Linked DNA regions of Homo sapiens. The protein of the gene in region 2 interacts with the protein of the main gene of each other region in a biochemical or structural test. Each region holds a gene or a part of one and is shown on either strand. Other genes may lie near its edges. The genes, in order: WWP2, POU5F1, NR0B1 and SOX2.

Region 1 (7,037 bases), on a different chromosome or scaffold from region 2:
AGCCTGGGTGACAGAGCAAGACTCCATCTAAAAAAATAATAATAATAAATAAATAAATTCACTGGGACTGTAGCATTGCATTAGAGAAAGAGTTTAATTGACACAAAACAGGCCATATGGGAGACAGAGTTATCACTCAGATCAGTCTTCCTGGAGGCTCAGAGATTAGGGTTTTTATAGACAATTTGACAGGTAGGGGACTAGGGAATGGGTGCTGCTTATTGGTTGGGGATGAGATTATAGAGGTGTGGAAAATGGTCCTGTGCTGAGTCCACTTCTGGGTGGGGCCACAGGATAATTTGTTTCACGAGTCAAGTCACGGGCCCAGGCAAAGTCAGTAGATTGCCAGAAAGAAAAAATCTCAAAAGACCAACCTTAGGTTCTGCAATAGCGATGTTATCTATGGGAGCAATTGGGGAAGTCACAAATCTTGTGACCTCTGGCTTCATGACTCCTGAGCAGTAAGGGATTATAGAAACTATACCTACCTCTTATTAGAATTCAAGCCCCTCCCATAATCCTAACCTTGTGGCTGTTGATTAGTTTTACAAAGGTGGTTTCGTTTTGGGAAGGGCTGTTATTATCCTTGCTTTTTTTTTTTTTTTTTTTTTTTTTGAGACAGGGTCTTGCTCTGTTACCCAGGCTGGAGTGCGTTGGACAATCTCAGCTTACTGCACTTTCTGCCTCCTGGGTTCAAGCGATTCTCGTGTCTTAGCCTCCTGAATAGCTGGAACTACAGGCGTGCGCCACCACGCCCGGCTAAGTTTTGTACTTGTAGTAGAGACGGGGTTTCACCAAGTTGGCCAGGCTGGTTTCAAACTCCTGGTCTCAAGTGATCTACCTCCCTTAGCCTCCCAAAGTGCTGGGATTACAGGCATAAGCCACCATGCCCAGCTATCCTTGCTTTAAGATTAAACTATAGGCTGGGTGTGGTGGCTCATGCCTGTAATCCCAGTACTTTAGGAGGCTGAGGCGGGTGGATGACTTTGAGCTCAGGCTTAAAGTTTGAGACCAGCCTGGGCAACATGGAAACCCTGTCTCTACAAAAAATACAAATATGAGCCAGGCATGGTGGCTCACACCTGTAGTCCCAGCTACTTGAGAGGCTGAGGTGGGAAGATCGCTTGAGCCCCAGAGGTGGAGGCTGCAGCGAGATGAGATTGCACCACTGCACTCCAGCCTGGGCAGCAGAGGGAGACCCGGTCTCAAAAAAAAAAAGAAACTATAAACTAAATTTCTCCCAAAATTAGCTTGGCCCATGCCCAGGAATGACCAAGGACAGCCTAGAAATCAGAAGTAAGATGGAATCAACTATGTCCGATTTCTCTGTCATAATTTTGCAAAGGCAGTTTCACAATTAGAAAAATGTAGAATTTGCTGCATTCTTTAAAACAGCTGGTGGAAGTCTTTAAAAATCATTGTTGCCTTGGCAAAGCTGCTGGGATTATAAAAGAAAAAAACCAAAAAGTTAAACAAACAAAAATCATTGCCATGGAAAAGAAGGGAGGATGTTCTAGATTTTAAAAGATTAAGGAGATAGTAGCCACAGGCAATTTGTATATATTGATTAGGTACTGAATTGGGGGAAAAATGGCTTTAAAAATATGTCTGGGGACTGGGCAGTAGCTCATGTTTGTAATCCCAGCATTTTGGAAAGCTCTGGCGGGTAGATCGCTTGAGTCCAGGTGGATTCCTTGAGCCCAGGAGTTCGAGATCAGCCTGGCCAATGGGGTGAAATCCCGTCTCTACAAAAAAAATTAAAAAGTTAGCCAGGCGTGGTGTTGCGCACTGGTAGTCCCAGCTACTCAGGAAGCTGAGGTGGGAGGATCGCTTCAGCCAGGTAGGTCGAGGCTGCAGTGAGCCGTGATCGTGCCACTGCACTCCAGCCGGTCTACAACTTACTTTTTAATGGTTTTACCTAGGAAAAAAAATGCGGATACACACACACACACACACACACACACACACACACATACACAGAGACATAGATGGCATTTATCTATAACCTTTGGTGTCCAATAGAATAGTCACTGTAGCCACATAGAACTGTTTACACTTAAATTACAATTATATAACATTTAAAAATCATATCCTTATTTGCACTAGCCATATTTCAAGTGTCAATAGCCACATGTGTCTCATGGCAATGTATTGGGCAGCACAGATGTGGAACATTTTCGTCATCATGGAAGTTCTCTTGGGTAGTGATGCTATAGACACATAGAACAGAAAGCAAATGTGGCAAAATGATAACAATTGGTGAAGAGTATACAGTATTTATTGTTCTATTTCAATTTTTCTATAGATTGGAAACTTAAAAATAGGAGGTTTTTTTTTTTTTTTTTTTTTTTTTTGTGAGAGTCTCTCTCCATCACCCAGGCTGGAGTGTGGTCTCAGCTCACTGTAGCCTCCGCCTCCTGGGTTCAAACAGTTCTCATGCCTCAGCCTCCTGAGTAGCTGGGACTACTGTTGTGCCCCACCACGCCCAGCTAGTTTTTGTATTTTTGGTAGAGACAGGGTTTAGCCATGTTGCCCAGGCTGGTCTCAAACTCCTGGCCTCAAGTGATCTGCCTGCCTCGGCCTCCCAAAGAGCTGGGATTACAGGCGTGAGCCACCATGCCCTGCTTCAAAATAAGAGTACTAAATGCCAGTATGATCCTAGATTGGGGCCTGGACCAGAACAAATTTTTTTTTCTTTCTTTTTTTTTTTGCGATGATGGGCATCGATAGGACAATTGGCAAAATACGAATAAAGTCTGTAAATTAAATATTAGTATTATAAAAAGTTAAATGTCCTGATTTTGATAATTGTGCTATTGGTTATGTTAAAAAATGTGTTTGTTGGGAAATACACCCAGAAATATTTAGGAGTAAAGGGGCACAATGTCTAGAGCTTACTCTCAGAGTTTCAGGAAAAAGTGTGTATGTGTATGAGCGCAGATACTTCTCAACTTACAGTGGGGTTACGTCCTGAAAAACCCATCATAAGTTGAACATATCGCAAGTTGAAAATGCATCTGATACTCCTAATCTGCCGAGCATCATAGCTTAGCCTAGCCTACCTTAAATGTGCTCAGGACACTTCGATATCCCGCAGCTAGGCAAGATCATCTGGTGAAGGGGTACACGGCAGAGTATCAATTGTTTGCCCCTGTGATCACGTGGCTGACTGGTGTTGCGGCTCACTGCCGCTGCCCAGTAGTACCGCATATGACTATTCTGCGAAAAGACCAAAATTCAAAATTTAAAATACAGTTTTTACTGAATGCATATCGCTTTCGCACCCCTGTAAAGTCAAACGTCCTAAGTAATGCACCATTTGTAGTCCCTATTTTTTAAAGGCATGTAGATTCATGCTCTTACCACCAGGTGGCCTCAGTTAACCTTGGTCCGTGTGTAAATCACTGCACCTCATTTTTCTACCCTGGGCCATGCCTCAGTACCACAAACCTTTGTCCCTAGTACTGTTCCCTTGTCGCTTCTGAATCTTAGCCACAGCTGATTTTTTATCTGTTGTCTTCCTCCCTTCTGTTCCTTTGGGGCCAGAGGAAGATAGTTACTGCTATAAAAAATCTGAAGGTGAATTTGGCCTTTGCCAAGTTGTAGACACCATTGTAGGACTGTCACCTTTCAGAAGAGTCTGGGAGGGAGGGATTTGCTTATACTCAAACAGGGAAGCTCAGGCTAGGATAGACTTGCCATTACAGGCAAGGGAGCATCAGTTGTATCTCTGATTTGGGGCAGGATGGGAGACGTCTAGATGTGTTTTACCCTAGCGACCTGGCGTTTCCACCAGGGGTAATATACACTAGGATGTCTGTCTAGCTCCTCGGTGTGATGCTTGTGTAGCTTTGTACTCCATGAGTCTTTGGCTTGCTGGTCCCAAACGAACATCAGAATTGTTGCCACATGAAGGCTATGAGCGGAAGAAGAAATGTAGATGACTAACGACACATGGCAAAAATATTCAACCTTGCTGGTAATCGAAGAACAGCAATAGAACAAATAAGTAAAGTTCAATAATAATATGCAGCATGATGTGGAATCAGACCGGCCGGGTGCACAGTCTGGCTTGTAGCTCCCTGGCTATGTAGAGTGGGAGAGTGACCTTGCCTCTCAAGCCTGTTTTCTCCTGGGTAAAATGGGGTGATGATATATTCCCTGCCTCATGGGTTTGTTGTGAGGATTCAGTTAGAAAATGTATGCACATGGCAGAGGGTCTTTAATAAGTACTCATAAAATCTTAAATATTATCTTTATTTATTTCAGTTAAAATTTATAAATTGGCCAGGTGCGGTGGCTCACGCCTGTAATCCCAGCACTTTGGGAGGCCAAGGTAGGCAGATCATCTGAGGTCAGGAGTTTGAGACCAGCCTGGCCAACATGGTGAAACCCTGTCTCTACTAAAAATACAAAAATTAGCCAGGCACGGTGGCGGGCGCCTGTAATCCCAGCTACTCAGGAGGCTAAGGCAGGAGAATTGCTTAACCTGGGAGGCAGAGGTTGCAGTGAGCCGAGATTGTGGCATTACACTCCAGCCTGGGCAACAAGAGCCAAACTCTATCTCAGAAAAAAAAAAAAAATTATAAATTTTGTTATGTTCCCAGGCTGGTCTTGAACTCCTGGGCTGAAGCAGCCCTCCCACCTTGGCCTCCCAAAGTGCTGGGATTCCAGGCATGAGCCGCCACGCCCGGCCTTAGCTGTTGTCTTTACACCATGCGTTTTTAACCCATGGATTTGCAAAAAGTGAACAAGCATATCCCTTAGCACTCTGTGATGTCTGGTAAAATGAATATTCTCCTGTAGCACTGATGGGAGGCTACATGGGTTTACCTTTCTTGGAAAGGAATGGGCAGTTTTAAGAACTTTAAAAAGTGTTCGTATCCTTTGGAGGAATACTCAAGAAAGGCATGCAGATGTATATGTTCACGGTAATTTCCCCAGAGCGAACAATTGCAAGCAGTCTATTCGACAATGAAAGAATAGTTAACATATACCTATTATGGGCTTGTATTGCAGTCATTTAAGAGTGACTTATGGGGGTGAAGAATTTTTAAAGAATTGAATAAATAAAAGATGAAAATCTGGAAGGCAATTTACCAACGATAAATTGGTGATGATGATCACTGGCAGTTATCCCAGTGGTTTCAGGTTAGGGATTTTTTTTTTTTTTTTACACTTCATATTTTTTTTGGTGTGTGTACTCACATTTCTTTAAAAAGTTTTTAGAATCAAGACAAAACAAAATGTATTGATTTATTTTTTAAAGCAATAACTAAAAAGAGCCGGAACATCTGCCACAGGGGGGCATCTGGGAGCCCTGGGACTCATCTTTGACTTTTTCTTTCTTTCTCTCCCAGTGGTGTCCGCAAAGCCCAAGGTGCATAATCGTCAACCTCGAATTAACTCCTACGTGGAGGTGGCGGTGGATGGACTCCCCAGTGAGACCAAGAAGACTGGGAAGCGCATTGGGAGCTCTGAGCTTCTCTGGAATGAGATCATCATTTTGTAAGAGAAAGCCCCTTCTTTTTGAACGCAGCAAGATGGGGAAAGAGAGAGGGTGCTCCGAGGGGGTTGTGGGAGGTACAGATTCCCTGTGGCACCTCCGACTTTTTCTACCTATGGTACCCAAGGTGACTCTTTTTAGGTGTTCCTACACCATTGAGCTCATAGAGCGTTCATTATTATCTAGAGGGTTACAGGGTCAGCTTTGAGAGGGGAAAGGATATATGTGGGTGTCTGCCTGTTTTGGTTCCCCCTCCCCAAGATGTCAGCAGTTTAGTTTAAATGTTTTCTTCTAAGTTATAGGAATGATCTGCTTGGATGTAATGAATCAGGTATTTGTTTTTCAGGAATGTCACGGCACAGAGTCATTTAGATTTAAAGGTCTGGAGCTGCCATACCTTGAGAAATGAACTGCTAGGCACCGCATCTGTCAACCTCTCCAACGTCTTGAAGAACAATGGGGGCAAAAGTACGTATGATGAAGGGGGTGCCGACGTGATTCTTGGGTGGGGATGGGAGGACCTGGCAGATCAACCTGGTATTGCAATTTCCCCCAGGACTAGGGGCTGCAGTACCTCTGTTCTCCTTGGATGCTGTCTTTGGAGTTTTGGGAAGGCTGAGGGCTCCTCTCTGCCTCCACTACAGAGTTTAGCCCTCTTTGTCCAGGGCCTCTAGTAATGTGATGCAGTGGTGTGTTGCCCTTTATCCTTCCTTAGGGACTGGAAACTTTCTGTCTGCCTCTGCTCCTCTTCCCGTTGCAGGAGATGTGTGATATGTTGAATGAAACTGTCAAATACCTCTAGCCTAAATCATTGCTTTTCTAGCCTCAGCCCTAAAACAGAACAAAGGAGCTGTGTGTATACGTATATGTGTGTGTGTGCATGCCTGTGTGCATGTGTGCACGTGTGTGTCTGGGATAGTATTACAAATAGTGCCCTGTGCTTACTCGGCACTCAGTAAACATTTACTGGATGTTGGAACGTGATGGACGCGCCATCTGAATTAGCCAACGTGCCTCTACGTCACGGACATATAAATCCTCATCTATTTATTGCTGTTTGTGGTCAGTGGCATGGCCCATGGCGGTGGTATTGGACCCTCCTTCATAAGGCCTCTATTCAGAGCAGTACCATATGTGGCGAATGAATGGCATGGAAAGAAAGGCTCCTTTTTCTCTTGATATCTGGAAAGTATTTTCTGAAAGTGGATGTAGCTTAAGAGAGAGGTGGGGGCGGGGAGAGTTGCGTCCCAGCGAGCGTGTTACATGATTTAAGAGTCTTTCTTTTCTCTCCAAGCCTGTCCTTTTAAGCGATGGGCCACTTGAAAGGTCTTTGAGCCTCCTCTGGTCTTTTCTTTTCGGCTGGGCACATAGAGATGTGCTGAACCCACACTGGCCCGAGGAATTGTTTAAAACCAGAGATGTGCCTCCACTTTAATCCTGCAGAGAACTCCCTGATTGCTTTGTCTTCTGAATTGGTGTTTATTTTCCCAAACCCTAGCCAGCCTTTTGTAATTTGATCATCAGGGAGAAT
Region 2 (6,961 bases):
CCAAGATCGCACCACTGCACTCCAGCCTGAGGGACAGAGTGAGACTCCATCTCAAAAATTAAAAAAAAAATAAAGCAGTCTATAGGAGTAGGGTAAAGGAGGGAAGGAGATTATGGAGGAGGGTGACACTTTTAAAGACAGAGAAGGTGATTGTTTGAGCAAAGGACAAGAGTCTAATGTGGCAAGGCCCTGAAGTGGGCCTTCCAGAGCCCAAAGCTGGTCTGGTGGCTAGGTAGATCCTGTTGCAGACATAGTGACTTTGTTTTAGTCCAAGCGAAATGATCTCTCACCCTTTTTCTCCCCACCAAGACGGAATCTCGTTCTATCGCCCAGGCTGGAGTGCTGTGGCGTGATCTTGGCTCACTGCAATCTCCGCCTTCTGGGTTCAAGCTATTCTGCCTCAGCCGCCTGAGTAGCTGGGACTACAGGCACCCACCACCATGCCCGGCTAATTTTTGTATTTTTAGTAGATATGGGGTTTCACCATGTTGGCCAGGCTGGTCAGGAGACCTCAAGTGATCTGTCCACCTTGGCCTCCCAAAGTGCTGGGATTACAGGTGTGAACCACCGCACCTAGCCTCACCTTTTTTTTTTTTTTTTTTGAGAGTTTCGCTTTTGTTGCCTAGGCTGGAGTGCACTGGCGCGATCTCGGCTCACCGCAACCTCCATCTCCCAGGTTCAAGCGATTCTCCTGCCTCAGCTTCCTGAGTAGCTGAGATTACAGGCATGCGTCACCACGCCCAGCTAATTTTGTATTTTTAGTAGAGATGGGGTTTCGCCATGTTGGTCAGGCTGGACTCGAACTCCCGACCTCAGGTGATTCGCCTGCCTCGGCCTCCCAAAGTGCCTGGCCACACCTTTTAAAACACTGACTCTAGTTGACGTGTTGGCCACAGACAGTAGGGAGGAAGCAGTATAATTTGAGAAGCTACTGCGGTAATCCCAGCAGAGATGATGGTGGCTGAGGCCAGGGTTAGGTTGTGATTGATTCAGGATGTTTCTTAAGGATAGGATGTAGGACATGAAAGAAACTGAGGATGACTGGGTTTGGCCTTGAGCAACTGGGTGATCAGGGTGGAGCAGTTCAGGGAGCCATCACAAGAGACAGAAAACGCGGTAGTCATCTGGTGTCTAAATGGCATTTAAGCCTTGAGGGTGGGTGAGAGGAAGGAAGGGTAGATAGAGCAGAGGTTGAAGGACTGAGCCCTGGGGCATGCCATATGAGGCTGCCGGCAGACAGAGGTGCACAGCTAGTGAGAAAAAAACAAGGCCTTTTTGTAGTTCTGAAGCCTCAAGGAAGTGTTTCAATGGTGCTTGATCATATCAATTTCAAATAGGCTGTTTTCATCCCCAACTTCTGCTCAGCCAATAACTCAAACTGATAAATGCCCTCTGCTATCTTGGATTTTCCAAATTCTGTTTTGGGGTTTTGGAATAAACACTGGTCCAAATCCTCGCTTCATCATTTAGCAGTTAAAACCCGTTAAATAGGATAATAATACCTCCCCCTAGGAGATTTTGTGCTGGTTAATGAGATAATGATGTATAAACGGAGCACACAGCCAGGCACTTAGGAAGTGGACCACAATTGCCAGCCATTATCATTCAAGGCTCAGCAGTGACCTCCTGCGAAGAGGTTGGGGCTTCTCGGTCACTCCAGAAACCAGTCACACCTTTCTGTGAGGTCTCAAGGCTTAGTATTTAATCTCTAATTGCTTACACTTGTCGCCTTGAAGGACTGGAAGATACATCTTTAATAGTCCTCAGCAGGGCTGGATGCCTTCAATCCCGCAGCAGCTCTATATTTGCAAATGGCCTGGAGAAATCTCTCACCATTTTTCTTGTTTACAACTTTGGAACTGAGGCTGAAGTCAATCAAAATCCAGCTTTCTACAAGGGGTGCCAGGGTGTGCACCTTAACACAGTGGCCAGTCATTGGCCTGAGGCAGAGATCCGGGGAAGACAAGCCCTATACTTGACTGGAGGTAAACCCAGCTCACAACGCGCACACACACAGCCCAAACAGGAGATCCTATCAGAAACGAGTCACACCCTAGACTTTCAGGAACAATAATCCTGGAATGAGCACTGTTTTTACCCTCAGGCTATGCTTAACCCTAAGGCCAAAATCTTGGGTCTGATAAGGGTCAAATTTTCAAGCAGGACTAAGGGTGGGAAAAGGGGCTCAAACCAACCCCAAGCTGGGTCTGGTGCTGGGCCAGTAATGAGTGACCAGACCCTGGGCAGGCCTAGGAGATGTGAGAGACCCTGACAAGGGCTGGGCCAGAGCAAAGGCCAGCCTGGGCCAGCTTCCGACTCTCCCAGGCTGCTCTGCCCTCACCGGCAGTTGTCTCTTCGAAATCCAGCTTCCACTTCCCACCTGGCCCCTGCCTGCCAGGGCTGCCAGCAGTTGATACACACCCCTCCCTGGCCAGGGCAGCTGACCCTGCCTGCTCCTCTCCTGGGTGCCAGGTCTGGGCAGCTGCAGGTGACCACTTCCCCATCAGGCTGCCCTGTCATGACCACCTCCCCACACCCCAACCCCGTCGAAGCTCACTTGCCTCCTCCGGGTTTTGCTCCAGCTTCTCCTTCTCCAGCTTCACGGCACCAGGGGTGACGGTGCAGGGCTCCGGGGAGGCCCCATCGGAGTTGCTCTCCACCCCGACTCCTGCTTCGCCCTCAGGCTGAGAGGTCTCCAAGCCGCCTTGGGGCACTAGCCCCACTCCAACCTGGGGCCCACAGTACGCCATCCCCCCACAGAACTCATACGGCGGGGGGCATGGGGGAATCCCCCACACCTCAGAGCCTGGCCCAACCCCCGGCCCGATTCCTGGCCCTCCAGGAGGGCCTTGGAAGCTTAGCCAGGTCCGAGGATCAACCCAGCCCGGCTCCGGCCCCCCTGGCCCATCACCTCCACCACCTGGAGGGGGCGAGAAGGCGAAATCCGAAGCCAGGTGTCCCGCCATGGGGAAGGAAGGCGCCCCAAGCCGGGGGCCTGGTGAAATGAGGGCTTGCGAAGGGACTACTCAACCCCTCTCTCCCTCCCCAGTCCCACCCACTAGCCTTGACCTCTGGCCCCGCCCCCTGGATGGGTGGAGGAGAGGGAGGTGGGGGGAGAAACTGAGGCGAAGGATGTTTGCCTAATGGTGGTGGCAATGGTGTCTGTGGAAGGGGAAAACCGGGAGACACAACTGGCGCCCCTCCAGGACCTCAGTGCAGGTCCCCCACAGAAACTTTTTTTATTTTTATTTTTTAAGACAGGGTCTCACTTTGTTGCCCAGACTGGAGTGCAGTGGAGTACAATGATGGCTCAATGTAGCCTCGATCTACTGGGCCAAAGCAATCCTTCTGCTCCAGCCTCCTAAGTGGCTGGGACTACAGGCTTGGACCACTGTGCCCTGTTAGTTTTTTTATTTTTAGTAGAGATGGGGCCTTGCTATGTTACCCAGGCTGGTCTTGAATTCCTGTCCTCAAGAAATCCTCCCGCCTCTGCCGCCCAGTGTCATGATTAAAGGCGTGAGCCACCACACCCAACTTTCAACTCCCAACCCGCTCCCTGGCACTCTCTCAGGCTCTGCACATCCCAGCTGTCTGGAATCACTCCCACACCTCCATGTTCTTCAGGAACCCAGGTGCTTGACCCCCTCTCCACAGACCTCTGGCACTGTGCCTTCAGGGGCCAGTCACCCTCTCAGCTCCTCAAATTTATTGAATGTGTGTGTGGCGCTATCCCTCAATGCATCAACAGCCATAAGCACAATGGCCAGCTGCTCCCTTATGCCTTCCCCCGATCCATCCAGAATCCTAGGCATTCCCATCCCGATACTGGCCAAATCCAGCCACCCCGCAGCCTGGGTGCCTGGCACCATCTGCCCAGCCTGCCAAATTTCACCCCATCTTCAAGAGTAGACTGCCAGACAAGGCCTCCGTGCTATATCCCCCCACCCCCCCATCCCCCCACCCCTCCGTCTTCCAGAATCAGACTCCAGACTCTCCTCATCTAACAGACTAAGGGGTTGGTCCCTACTTCCCCTTCAAGGGACCAGACTTTGGACTGACTGGGCCTCAGTTTCCCAACCTTTGCTGAAACAGAGTGATAAGACACCCGCTTTGGGCCCCCTCCACTATGGAACCTGCACATCAGGTTCCTTGCTCCCCTCTCAACCAAAACTCAGACATCTAATACCACGGTAGGCCCCGTTCTCCCTCCCCCACCTCCCTGGCCCAGGCCTCCAGCCCTAGGCCCTGGGTGGGGAAAACCAGGGGGTGGGGGGTGTGGAGAAAAAATATCTGACTTCAGGTTCAAAGAAGCCTGGGAGGGACTGGGGGAAGGGGGCAGGACAATGGCCTTGGCTGGACAATCCCGGTCCCCAGAGGGGGCAGCTCTAACCCTAAACAAGTGCTCAACCCTTGAATGGGCCTGGATGGCTCCCCTGGGGACTGCTTCCTGCTCCCCAACCCCCCAGTCCCAATCCCCTCACACAGAATCCCCTTCAGAGACGCTAAAAGGAGCTCCAGCAACCCCCCTCTGCAATCCCCTCAAAGACTGAGCCTCAGACGGGCACCAAGGGCCCCCCACAGGGACCTAGGTATCTAGTTCCTCCTTCCTCTGGGGGACTCAGGCGTCCAGCTTCATCGTGCGTCCCTCCCCGAGCCTGGCAGATTGAGGGATGTGCTTTGTTTAGTGGGGCTGGCTGGCAGAAAGACGCAGAGGAGGTGGAGAGTGATTTGTGGAGGCGTGCAGGAAGGCTGCCCTAAGCTCCCCTTCAGGGTCTGTTTTTCTGGGCCTGGCCTGAGTATCCTGAGGCTCATGCTGCTGGTCTAGTGCTTGATTCTGTTTGCAAGAGAATAGCCAACGGAATGCCTGTCTGTGAGGGATGATGTTTGTCTGTCTGCTCCCAAAACTTGATCTCAGTGGAGGGCCTGGGGTAAGTCTGGGGGCTCCAGAGGGGGCTCTGGGCCAGGGCTCCCCACAGCTTCGAAGGCCAGAAGGCCAGGTCTGGACTGGGCACGCTGACCTCTGTCGACTTAAGTAAGGCTTCTCATTGCAGGCTCCAGGCTCAGCCCTGCCTGGGCTTGTCTGCTGGGGTCAGTGGCTCTATCTGCCTTCTAAGGGGATGGGTGTCCCGTGGCCAGCTGTCTTCATCTTGGTGGCATCCGTGAGTCTTTTGAGACTTTTCCCCCACTCTTATGTTGCCTCTGTTCGTGTGCCCATCTCCTGTCTGTGTAGACTTTTTGAGCCTAATTGTATGCGTGCATTTCAATACCTGCCACAGGTCTGCCGGAAGGTCTACAAGGCAGTGGGGTTGCAGCTGTGTTCACTTCTCGGCCTTTAACTGCCCAAAAGGCAGGTAGATTATGGGGCCTGGTGGGGGTGGGAGGAACATGCTTCGGAACAGGAGGAGGCCCCTCCCCAGCCATCTCAATCCCCAGGACAGAACCATCACGGCACCTTTGTCATGCATCTCTCTGCTGTCTGCCAAGAAGACGGCCTCTCAGAGGAGGGGGAGGGGCAGGCCTGGGATTTGGCTGGAATCTCCACACCAGTGTTTCTCAGCTTGCCATCCTCCAGGTTCCCCAAAAGCGCTCTTCCCAAGCCAGTCCAGAGAGTCCCTGCTGCCCATTTTCCTAGTGGCTCCTAAAACACCTTCCCCAATTTCCCCACTCAACACCACCCTCTTGTTTTTAGATTATAATTTGTACTGTAGGTGGTGTATTTCTGGCCTGGGCAAGAGGCCCATTCCCGAGAGGGACGCAGACAAGGGGTGGGTGCCTGGATCCCTGGCTGCCTTGTGGCTGGATATGAGCCCAGTCAGGGGTCAGCCTCCTGCATGCCTAGACTCCTAGCCGGCCCCCTTCTGGGGTGCTCAGGGCTGATGGGAGGTTGAGGCAGGCTTTCCTTCCTTCTCACTGTCCTGTTATGCCTGAAGGGTAGGTGGCTTCACTTCAGCCAAGGCCAGCTCTCCCAGGCCCCAACCAGTGCTGGGGGCCACCGTTGGGCCTGGAGGAGACTGGAAGCCAGGCTGAGTCATCAGAACTGGTCCCATGATTCCCTGGGTTTTAGAAAGTCACCATAAAAAGATACTTCACACACACCTTTATTATTACAGTGCAATGTCAAGACCCTTCACAGAGCACTGCCAGGGGACCCAGGTGAGGCCCACCTCTCCCCACCAGGTGAGGCGGCTGGCATGGCTGGGTGGGGAGAGGTGAGATGAGCAGCCTTGCTGCTCTCAGCCCAGCCTTCCCTTCCCCTCACTGGGAGATGAGGTGCTGTTTGGTTGAAAAACCAGCTGAAAAAACTCAGTTGGGACCAATAGAGACTTGCTCTCGACCCGGTCTAGGAAACCACTTATTTTGACTTCCGAGGCCTGTCAATCTGAAGGCAAAAGAAAGGGAAGAAACGGAGGGCTGAGGGTTCAGGCTTGGCCCACCTTGGGAGATGATCTCCCTTAATAGCAATTTAGACAAATTCCTTTGCTCACTGTGGACCAAGTCCCCTCTTCTCAACAAAGGACCCTCTGATCTCCCCCATGAGCCCTGCAAACTGAGGTCACCTTATCCCAAATCCAGACACTCTTACCTCAAATAGAGGAGTCAACTCTCTAGCTGTAGCCTGTAGGGAGTCAGAGGTGAGAGCAAAAGGAGTGGGTGAGCTGGGAGGATTGGTCAGGAACAAACTAGGAGGCATGGACCAGGTTCTAAGTCCTGGCTCTGACTCCCTGGCTAATGGCACCTCCCCCTCCTGTGCCTCAGTTTCCTCACCTAGTAAAGAGGATTTGGACTCAATGAACTCTAAACTTCCTTCCAACTCAGACATAAAATTGCTGCCCCGCTCTCATATGCCCTCCCATCTACCCACCCCCCTTACTTGACATGGGAATGTAGACTTCTCTGCACACCTGTGAAGAGAAATGGGGGTAGGAAAGCTGGGAGTGGTGTTCAATGAGAAGTTGGCATA
Region 3 (2,722 bases), on a different chromosome or scaffold from region 2:
TATAGTAGCCTTGATTTTATCTGGACACAAAGAAAAATTAGTTCTATGGATTATAATTAAAGGGGCAGCAGGAGATAACAATAAAGTTGCTTTATGATTTCATGCCATGTTGTTCAATATACCAGTTACAAACGTAATGTATCTAAAAGATGAAGTGTAATTAGTGGTTTTATAATGATGTTGAGCTTTCTGGAACTATAACCCCTCATTATAGAATGTATGTTCCTTGTGGATCTTTAAATCCATAACTGTGTACCAAAAAGATCCCCCAATAAAACAGAAAATCTCCTCTTTCACTTCTGCATGTCTTTATAATTACAGATTGCTTCTTGACTCCAGTTGGATGCAAACGCAGTCTTCCATACAGCTGAGGGAAGTGGAAATGAAGATAGAGCAAAGTGACCTCCCACTGATACTGGCACATAATTACATTCAATGTCATGTTGTTACTTCCAAAGATACTTTTTGCTTATGTTGGCTAGGTTTTAATAGTTTTTGAGGCCTTACTTAAACCCTGCTGAAGCTTTTTTCAATCAAGTTAATAGTTAAGACCTTAAAATTTATTATAACAATATGTACAAATTTGATTTGAGCAGGTTCCATGAAATTGCTACACTTGTGAAAATAGCTTATTATACTAGTACCCTGCTATTTTTTTTTTAAAAGATGTACAGAGCTATGCTACCTGTTGGCAAATGTCTTCTTTAACTATGGAACAGAGAAATTTGTGACTGTCTGGAATAAAATTATTTCTTTAATTGAATACAAAAATACTCTGCATGTAAAAATATTAAGAAAGTTTATTTTAAAATATTTTACACTCTTTTGCCCACAGCTCTTTATTCTTCCCTCATGGTGAACTGCACTACTGCACTTGTGTGGCCCACATGACTTTATATCTTTGTACAGAGCATTTCCAGCATCATATCATCCATGCTGACTGTGCCGATGATGGGCCTGAAGAACAGTTCAGCAATGACATTGGCATTGATGAATCTCAGCAGGAAAAGGGTACTATTAAGTTCGATGAATCTGTCATGGGGCCCTTGGTGCGTCATCCTGGTGTGTTCACTGAGTATTTGCTGAGTTCCCCACTGGAGTCCCTGAATGTACTTCACGCACTGCAGGCCCGGCACGTCTGGAGGGAGAAAAATCTCTTTGTTATAAAACAGCTCACCACAGAGTCCTTTGCTAGCTTTTTAAAAATAGCCATTTCTGTTTCATCCCAATTAAACAAGACCCAAAGCTTCCCGGTTAAAAGGGTAAAAGGCCAAACCAGTCTACGTTTTCAGAAGCAACGTGTCCAAGAATGAAACATCATGTGATCTTACTTAATATTTACTATGTTTCTATGCACACGTTTGCAAATACACTGGCCATGAGCCAACAAACGCACACAATTTAATATGACAGTAGAATACGGTTTAATGAATCATCACTCCAGTTCACTTTCTATGCAAATATGAAGAAGTTCATGATATTTCAAGAGGTGGGCACTTTACCTATGAGAAACAAGCCATGATAAACAAGAAGTGTTGCCATGAGACAAATGTTTTTACCATTCTTCTTTGAACTTTCCATCATTACACTGATCGTTCAGCCAATGGTGGTAAACTTCACAGCCACAAACTTTGACGCACAGTTTCATTTTACCTATTTGCCTGCAGGCCAATATTAGTCTAGAGGCCCGAATAATTTGAAAGCTAACACTGGCCACTTAGCTCATTGCACCATGATTTCTGTATTGGGGAAGATTTTGAAAAAAATAAAAGAATGATTCTAATGAGTGTTCAAAAAGGCTCTTTTCAAAAATATTAAAGTAAGAAGTTTTTGAAAATTCTTATAGTCATTAAAAGTTTAAAAAGTAAACATGAAAACATCACGAATTGTACCATGATTCAAGAATAACTTTTGTAATAGAAAACACATGACCTTTTGCAGTATAGTGTGATACCGAAGTAAAAGTGAAAGAAATAAATGCAGGAAAGTTTAAGTGGATGTAAGTTTTTATAAGGAAAGTAATAAGAGGAGGCTGCTTTTGAAGGTCCTTTGATCTTCCATGATGATAATATCGTTGCAAAGTTCTTTAACTTGTATTCAAGTAATTAGCAGTTGACCACTTGGTTTAAATGATGTTAATGATGATTGCAATCATTTTCCTTCCCTTTTCCTAAAAAATTCAACAGAAAAGTATTTTAAAAGCACCATGCCAATCATCACAGAGCAGCAGAACCAGTGTTCTTTAAAAAAATAATAATGGTAATAAGCGAGAGGCACTCCTATTATGGGCGAATATCAAATCTCATAAATAAGAACAAAAATAAAGCAACCATTTTAATCCATATTCCAGTTCTGATTACTCTAGTCCACACATTATCATCCCCTTCTATCTACAGCTTGAGATCCAGGCTTAAGACCCAATTTTGTTGTGTTTGAATTCCATCGATGAAAGTAGGAAGAGGCTTGCATGAAACTCCACCAGAAATCTGAAGCTTCTCTAGGTCTAGATTCATGGCTTGTGAAAACTTCATCTTGTGTATGCCACATTACTTTTCTCTGTGTTCACAATATACCCCTCCACCTTCTCCCCACCCAAGTGGTTCCCCCCCACACAGAGACACACAAACTGGCCTTCAAAATAAGGTCAGGGAAGAGAAAATGCAAATGGACTCCACAGTTTTATATCTCCTTAAGTTTGAACCTATATATATAATGTATTTAA
Region 4 (7,763 bases), on a different chromosome or scaffold from region 2:
CAAACACCCACCCAGCAGATGAACACTTTGCATGTCTAGTTTGCAATTATTCTGATACAAGAAGCATCATTTTTCTCTATAGCCAGGTTTCAAAGGGCCATTGTGCTGTGAAGAAAATGAAAACAAAACCAGCCAACCTGGTTCTGATTTGGCTCAATATCCCATCTGCTAAACTACATGAAAAATTTCAGAATTGAATCCTTTCTGGCAACAAGTGGCATAAATCAGTTTTAAGTATAGGTCCCCATCATGCTTATTCATGCTGCTTAGAAAAGGAGGGGGCGGATTTACAATATATGTCTCTAGTTTCTATTTTAGAAATGACAGAAATTTCAATTTTTCCAGTACTTATTAATCATCCAGCCGTTTCTTTTTTGCAGTTAACATTAGCACATGATGCTGGACTAGTAATACCAAGGTTTTTGGTATTTTGCTTTCTTGGCTGAGCACAGTATTATAATTCCCCGAAAAGTTATGTATAATCACAGTGTTATCCAAATAAATGAAAGACTCAAGAATAATTTCAGTGTCCATATTTCAAAAATTTATTTATCTCAAACTGTGCATAATGGAGTAAAAACTTAAGTTGAAAATGTACCTGTTATAAGGATGATATTAGTTCAAATATATACATGGATTCTCGGCAGACTGATTCAAATAATACAGAGCCGAATCTTTTAAAATACAACTACGGAAAATAAAGGGGGGAAAACCTTAAAATATCACAATAAATTTACAGAAATATTACAAACCATAAGAAAATATTTCAAACACAGTAATTTCATGGTTTTTTTTATCTGAACAAAATGGAAAGTTGGGATCGAACAAAAGCTATTATAAATTACCAACGGTGTCAACCTGCATGGCCATTTTTGCTTTTAACAGTAAGTTATAAAATTTAGTACAGTCTAAAACTTTTGCCCTTTTTAAACAAGACCACAGAGATGGTTCGCCAGTACTTATTCTAATTTTTTCCTTTTGTACAATTTTTAAACAATTAAAATGTCCAAATTTGAATAATTTTCTTCTTTTCACGTTTGCAACTGTCCTAAATTTCAGCTGCAGAATCAAAATTCAGCAAGAAGCCTCTCCTTGAAAAATATTGGCAAATTCTCAGCTTATAAACAATGGACATTTTGATTGCCATGTTTATCTCGATAAATACTGTACAAAAGTTGCTTGCAAATATTAAAACATTTTTTTCGTCGCTTGGAGACTAGCTCTAAATATTATTGGTAAAGACTTTTGCAAACTTCCTGCAAAGCTCCTACCGTACCACTAGAACTTTTAAAAAGTTTTTCGTAGCTTTCTTTCCTCCAGATCTATACAAGGTCCATTCCCCCGCCCTCCCCACCCTCCCCAGGTTTTCTCTGTACAAAAATAGTCCCCCAAAAAGAAGTCCAGGATCTCTCTCATAAAAGTTTTCTTGTCGGCATCGCGGTTTTTGCGTGAGTGTGGATGGGATTGGTGTTCTCTTTTGCAGCTGTCATTTGCTGTGGGTGATGGGATTTTTTTTTTTCCTTTTTCTTTTTGAGCGTACCGGGTTTTCTCCATGCTGTTTCTTACTCTCCTCTTTTGCACCCCTCCCATTTCCCTCGTTTTTCTTTGAAAATTTCTCCCCCCTCCAGTTCGCTGTCCGGCCCTCACATGTGTGAGAGGGGCAGTGTGCCGTTAATGGCCGTGCCGGGCACCGGGCCGCTCTGGTAGTGCTGGGACATGTGAAGTCTGCTGGGGGCGGCGGGTTCCGGCACCTCGGCGCCGGGGAGATACATGCTGATCATGTCCCGGAGGTCCCCGGCCTGGCAGGGCGCCCTGGAGTGGGAGGAAGAGGTAACCACAGGGGGGCTGGAGCTGGCCTCGGACTTGACCACCGAACCCATGGAGCCAAGAGCCATGCCAGGGGTGCCCTGCTGCGAGTAGGACATGCTGTAGGTGGGCGAGCCGTTCATGTAGGTCTGCGAGCTGGTCATGGAGTTGTACTGCAGGGCGCTCACGTCGTAGCGGTGCATGGGCTGCATCTGCGCTGCGCCGTGCGCATTGAGGCCCGGGTGCTGCGGGTAGCCCAGCTGGTCCTGCATCATGCTGTAGCTGCCGTTGCTCCAGCCGTTCATGTGCGCGTAACTGTCCATGCGCTGGTTCACGCCCGCGCCCAGGCCGGCGCCCACCCCGACCCCGCTCGCCATGCTATTGCCGCCGGGGGCCAGCAGCCCGCCGGGCAGCGTGTACTTATCCTTCTTCATGAGCGTCTTGGTTTTCCGCCGGGGCCGGTATTTATAATCCGGGTGCTCCTTCATGTGCAGCGCTCGCAGCCGCTTAGCCTCGTCGATGAACGGCCGCTTCTCCGTCTCCGACAAAAGTTTCCACTCGGCGCCCAGGCGCTTGCTGATCTCCGAGTTGTGCATCTTGGGGTTCTCCTGGGCCATCTTGCGCCGCTGCCCGCGGGACCACACCATGAAGGCATTCATGGGCCGCTTGACGCGGTCCGGGCTGTTTTTCTGGTTGCCGCCGGCCGCCGCCGCGGTGGAGTTGCCGCCGCCGCCCCCCGAAGTTTGCTGCGGGCCCGGCGGCTTCAGCTCCGTCTCCATCATGTTGTACATGCGGGCGCTGTGCGCGGGCCCGGCCCGCCGGCGGCCGCCGACCCTCGGCCCGGCCGGGACTTTGGGGGGCCCGCGGGCGGGGGGAGAGGAGGAGGGGAGGCGGGCGGGGGTGTCGGGAGCGCAGGGCTCCGCGAGGAAAATCAGGCGAAGAATAATTTGGGGGAAAAAAAGAGAGAGGCAAACTGGAATCAGGATCAAAAAAAGCGCTTCCCTCCTCCTCTGGCCGATCCTGCCGCCGCCGATGATTGTTATTATTATTTTTTGGAAAGGCTTAAGCCTGGGGCTCAAACTTCTCTCCCTTTCTTTCTCTCTCCTCTTCTTTCTCTCAGTCCTAGTCTTAAAGAGGCAGCAAACTACTTTCCCCCTTTTGCAAACACTCTCTTCTCTGCCTTGACAACTCCTGATACTTTTTTGAACAAGTTAATAGACAACCATCCATGTGACGGGGGCTGTCAGGGAATAAATGGGTTTCTAGCGACCAATCAGCGCGCGGCGGCTCCTCCACTCGAGCCCAGCCTCGCTGCCGGGTTTTGCATGAAAGGGGGCGGGGCCTCCCGCGCCGCCGGCCGCGCGGGGGAGGCCGGGGGAGGAGGGGGCAGGCGAGGAGGGGGAGGAGGCTCCCAGAGCCAGCCTGCCAGCCACTGAGAAACCTTTGTATCCCCTCTCGCAGCAACAGGTCACACCACACGCCTTTTCGAAGGAAGTGGGTAAACAGCACTAAGACTACGTGGGTTTTTTTTTCTTTAAACTTAATATTGATTTACTTTTTGGTGCAGGGTACTTAAATGAGGATGGGACGCGGGAAGCAGCTAAGGTGCGGGGGTGGGGCAGGGCACAGTGGGTGGCTCAGGGCGGCTGTCCAACTCGTATTTCTGGAAACAGCCAGTGCAGGAGTTGGTGTGTCATTGTTCTCCCGCTCATCCACAGCACTCCCCCCCAACTCCAGCCCCTCTGGTGCCGCTCCCGTACTGCGCTCTTCCGCTCTCCTCTCTTACCTTACAGGTGCCAACACTCTCTCACGCCCTTCTCACAGTCCCGACTAGAAGTTAGGAGACCCAAACCTCTGTCCTCAAAACCTTCCTTGCTTCCACGTAACTTGCTCTGTTCTTAAAAATAAATCCTGCTCGGACCATAAGGCAGACTCTAGAGCTGAGAACCAGCAGGCCTTGGTAAGCTGCCATCTCCCTGTCCAACTCAGCTCTTTGGCCCAGGAAACTGCAGCTCTTCCTCTTAGCCCCAGCCACATCTCCCACTAGACTGTCTTCATTCAACCGTAGCAAAGGGGATGCTTCTACTGTCTGCCCCCACTCCCCATTCCCATCCCATGCCTCCCCGTAAGAAGGGTTTCGGTCGTGCGGCTTTCAAATGGGGGCTGGGGAAAGACACAGACGGAAGGGCGCTCAAAAGTGCAGGCGATGGGGGAGGGTGATTTCAACTTCCTGGCATCCCACGGCACTGTATGGAGGTGGCTTTTGGGCCGCAGTCACAAACTCCCTCCCACGCAGAGTTCCCAGGACTCCAGCAGAACCAGCCCTGGCATTTTCCCCGTAGATTTCCATTGTGGTGGCCGCAAAGCCCAGGCCGCGCAAGGCTGGGGCTGCGCCGCAAAGGGGCTCAAGGCCTGGGAGGCGGGGTCGATGCTCTCCAGGCACAGGTGCAGGCAGCGCACACTGGGAGAAGGCGGCCGGGACTGGGGAAGGGGGAGCCCAGCAAGGCCCGGGTTAGAGGAGGATGAGATGGGGGCGGGGGTAGGGGCTCAGGAATCTTGCCCGCCCAGGACCCAAGAGGGTAATTTTAGCCGCTCTCCCATTGTCCCGACGTAAAGATTTCAATAGGTAGGCGCTCAATGCGGAGGGCAATGGCAGCACGTCCGTTACAAATAGGTAGTTTTGTTTCTCTTGTTGTCGCTACACGGAGTCAAACAAAGCCTCGTCTAAGTTTCCTTCCACTCTCTTGTTGGGATCTTTGTGGCTAAAATGCACTTGACTACAAAGGGTGGGGTGGGGGGGAATAAAGAAAAAAAAACCTGATGCCATTTCTTTTTTATAAAGGGCTTAAACCATCAGGGTTACTTATTTTCTTTCTTCTGTAACACTCTCTCCGCCCCCTCCTCCCCTGGTCTACCCTTACTCACCCTAAGAAAATGTACTGAATAGTATCTACCAGCCACGTTCCATTTATTATCTTTACAAAACGGTGCATTGTTTTGTTCCTTACTAACCTTCTTCCCATAATCACTCCCCCGACCCCCAATTTCTCCAATCTCTGCCCTCCCTAGCCTGTTACTGTCAAACTCACACTAAATATACCCACTGGAAACTCAGAAAAGTTGTAAAAAAAAGAATTCTGCAGACTTTCCTTAAGTTATTTCCAATCAACCTTCCTGCCCCCCGAAGGTTCTCCTTTTTCTCTCAAGTTATGGCTTGTTTTAGTTCTTGGGAACCCGGAAAGGGTGAGATTGGGTTTCTCAAAATGCATACATATTCGGCGCTCTTCAAAATACAGCACTGTTTTCTGTTTAATCCAGGTGTAATATTAAGGTAAACACGGACCTGGAGATTAGGAAAGAGAAAAGGTTGAGAAGATCTGGGGAAGAGAAGGCGGCCACCGGCTTTTCAGCGCGGCTGGTTTCAGGGATGTGGCTGGTGCGCCCCCTGCTGGTAGATTCGCTTTTCCAAGACTATTGCTTTTACCTTTAAAAGAAGGTATTTGAAAATAATTAAAGTAAAAAAAAAAAAAAGAGGGGGATGGAAGATCAGACTAATTATACATAATCTAAACAAAAGAAAAGTTAACATATCTTATAAGCTGCGGAACCAAATCATAAGAATCAGATTTAATTTGCCTAACTTAGAAATATACATACAACCTCGAGGTAAGTGGGAGGTTAGACCATGGGAAAAAATAGGTACAAATTATGAGATTCAACATGTGAATGAATTATGATTGTCCAGACGCCACAAAGGGCAGACCAAGAATTCACTTTATGATTGTGTATGCATCGGTCTGCTTAATAGCATTATTCTAAAAACTTTAAAAAGCTTGTGGATAATTGTTTGAAGAAACAACCAAGGAATTGGTGTGGATAAGGGTGGTGTATATTTGTTAAAATAAATACTAATAACAGACGGTTATAGACACAAATCTTTTAAATCTCGTTGCCTTTCTCTCAAGGCACAATTTTTTTCCTTGGGAGGATATATAACAACTTTTACACATTCTCAGATGCATGTGTTTGTGCATGAACTCTATAATAATGTATTTAAGAGGTTAAAGGGGTTGGCTAGGTCTTTTATTAATTGCTTTTATCACATTAATAAGCTATGGAATTACGTTACAATTGTGTTATCATTGGTTGCATTTATTTACAGCTTTATTTTAATTAAGCCTGCTGTACTTATCGAGACAATAAACTAACTGTGGCTGGCGATTATGCATAATAATGTGCTATGAAAATAAGATTAAAGAAGATGGTGATAGCAGGAACATTTTCTCATTAGATTTTTTAGAACATATGCATTTTAAAAAATCAGATCACTGCCCACTCTATTTCAATCCAGCACCATCACTGATCCCTAAATATAATAACTATAACGATTCCAATAGATGACAGAAGCAACACTGTTTTAGGTTTGTAATAGACAGCTACAGTACTAACAACAATATACCATTGACTACTAGACAATCAAAAAAGACTTGGAACAGGATGCTTCATCCTCTGAGAATCTAAAATGTTGCCATTGGCACAATTTACGAAAATTGAAAGTGCTTAATCTAAAGGGAGTGTAACACTTCCCTTCCACGGGCAACAAAAAGCTACATACTTTTAGAGCAAGATTAGTAGTTAGTAACAAAAATGCATGACTCCTGGAATATTCTGATTTTATTTTGTTCTATTATAGGCCCTAGCCAAAAGGCCTTAACTGTTAAGTGTAACTCAATTTTATTTCAAAATCTTGCACATTGATTTTTCTCTCCTAAAGTCTCCTCAGCACTCCTCAAGTATTATATCTGAAACCAACTAACAATTTTGTGGAGACAGGGGACTGTAGACTTATTTTTTCTTCTTAGTGTCAAATAGAGGTTTAACTTGCAGTAATTAGGTGAGAACTAGCCAAGCATCTTACTATTATGATGCTTGTTAAAAAACGCTTCTTTTCTGCATCTGCATTTGAGTGTGTTCCCCTCCTCTCTTAATCTTCTTATGGAAATGAAGGCAAACGGCAGGGAACCTGCAGAGTCTTGGAGAATGTCCTTGTTAACTGGAATTTCTCAGCATTGCTAATTAGCAGAGTTTGACGACCACCAGTATTGGGGGAAAGCTCTGTTTAACCACTCACAAACCATTCTGAGGAAGAGCAGACTAATTTTATTTTGTAATTAAAATCTGAAAAGGGCCCTATTTGACAGTTAGGGCTATGAGAGTTTTATCTCCCCGTGAAATAATTACTGCCTTGATAACTCAATTTTCTGAAAAATGTCAACTGTAGGCTCCAAAAGTTTTAATTTCATTATGTAAGGAAAAAAGTGAGAAAAATAGAAGAAAATGTACAGAAAGGTTTTCTAATTCTAGAACTGGTTAAATATACAAGCAGCCAGATGTGGTCAAATGAAGGTTTTTTTTTTTCTTCCCTTTTTTGTCATGTTTCCTCCAAATCCTAACCTTCCCACAATCTCCTCTAAAAGTGACCATAGCAGCAATCATACTGCAGTGAAAGAGATCATACCAGTAGTCTGGTAAGTGAAAAGAAAACAAAATTAAAAAGCTAAGTGCAGCAACTGGAGAAAATTTTCTAATTTTAAAGGCCAAAAATAAAGGAAAATTTAAATGTTTAGGACAATGCTGGTACAATTTGGTGAGATGATATTTATATTTATCCTGTAATACAAGAAAATTGAGAATTTCAGAGTAAGGAGACTGGCATAAGCCAATTTTTAAAACATTTCCTTCTCCTCTGTAAGTCACAAAAGATCTCAGTCACTTCAAATTGGAGCATGCTACACGACTTCCGGAATGACCAAAGCTTGATTCTTCATTTCAGAAACAAACACATATAAATGAAGGTAAATAAGTGCATTAGAAGATTTTTTTTCCCTTAAAAGAGCATTGCATACTTTCCAAAAACAATTAACAAGAAATAAGCTGGAAAAGGTTAGGATATAGAA

What was found.
Region 1: of the proteins of POU5F1 (region 2) and WWP2, one has a biochemical effect on the other in vitro, tested with the Homo sapiens proteins (2 studies listed by BioGRID and IntAct, with this or other methods).
Region 3: the proteins of POU5F1 (region 2) and NR0B1 form a complex in vitro, tested with the Homo sapiens proteins (one study listed by BioGRID).
Region 4: the proteins of POU5F1 (region 2) and SOX2 form a complex in vitro, tested with the Homo sapiens proteins (one study listed by BioGRID).

Annotation. Positions count from the first base shown.
Region 1 is NC_000016.10:69,793,322-69,800,358, forward strand, and holds part of WWP2 (NEDD4-like E3 ubiquitin-protein ligase WWP2), read left to right. Parts: intron 1-5,360; coding exon 5,361-5,508; intron 5,509-5,852; coding exon 5,853-5,974; intron 5,975-7,037. UniProt on the Homo sapiens protein: E3 ubiquitin-protein ligase which accepts ubiquitin from an E2 ubiquitin-conjugating enzyme in the form of a thioester and then directly transfers the ubiquitin to targeted substrates.
Region 2 is NC_000006.12:31,167,655-31,174,615, forward strand, and holds the start of POU5F1 (POU domain, class 5, transcription factor 1), read right to left. Parts: upstream 3,029-6,961; 5' UTR 2,967-3,028; coding exon 2,562-2,966; intron 1-2,561. UniProt on the Homo sapiens protein: Transcription factor that binds to the octamer motif (5'-ATTTGCAT-3'). Forms a trimeric complex with SOX2 or SOX15 on DNA and controls the expression of a number of genes involved in embryonic development such as YES1, FGF4, UTF1 and ZFP206.
Region 3 is NC_000023.11:30,303,686-30,306,407, forward strand, and holds the end of NR0B1 (nuclear receptor subfamily 0 group B member 1), read right to left. Parts: intron 1,139-2,722; coding exon 894-1,138; 3' UTR 521-893; downstream 1-520. UniProt on the Homo sapiens protein: Nuclear receptor that lacks a DNA-binding domain and acts as a corepressor that inhibits the transcriptional activity of other nuclear receptors through heterodimeric interactions.
Region 4 is NC_000003.12:181,707,195-181,714,957, reverse strand, and holds SOX2 (transcription factor SOX-2), read right to left. Parts: upstream 3,034-7,763; 5' UTR 2,598-3,033; coding exon 1,644-2,597; 3' UTR 522-1,643; downstream 1-521. UniProt on the Homo sapiens protein: Transcription factor that forms a trimeric complex with OCT4 on DNA and controls the expression of a number of genes involved in embryonic development such as YES1, FGF4, UTF1 and ZFP206. Binds to the proximal enhancer region of NANOG.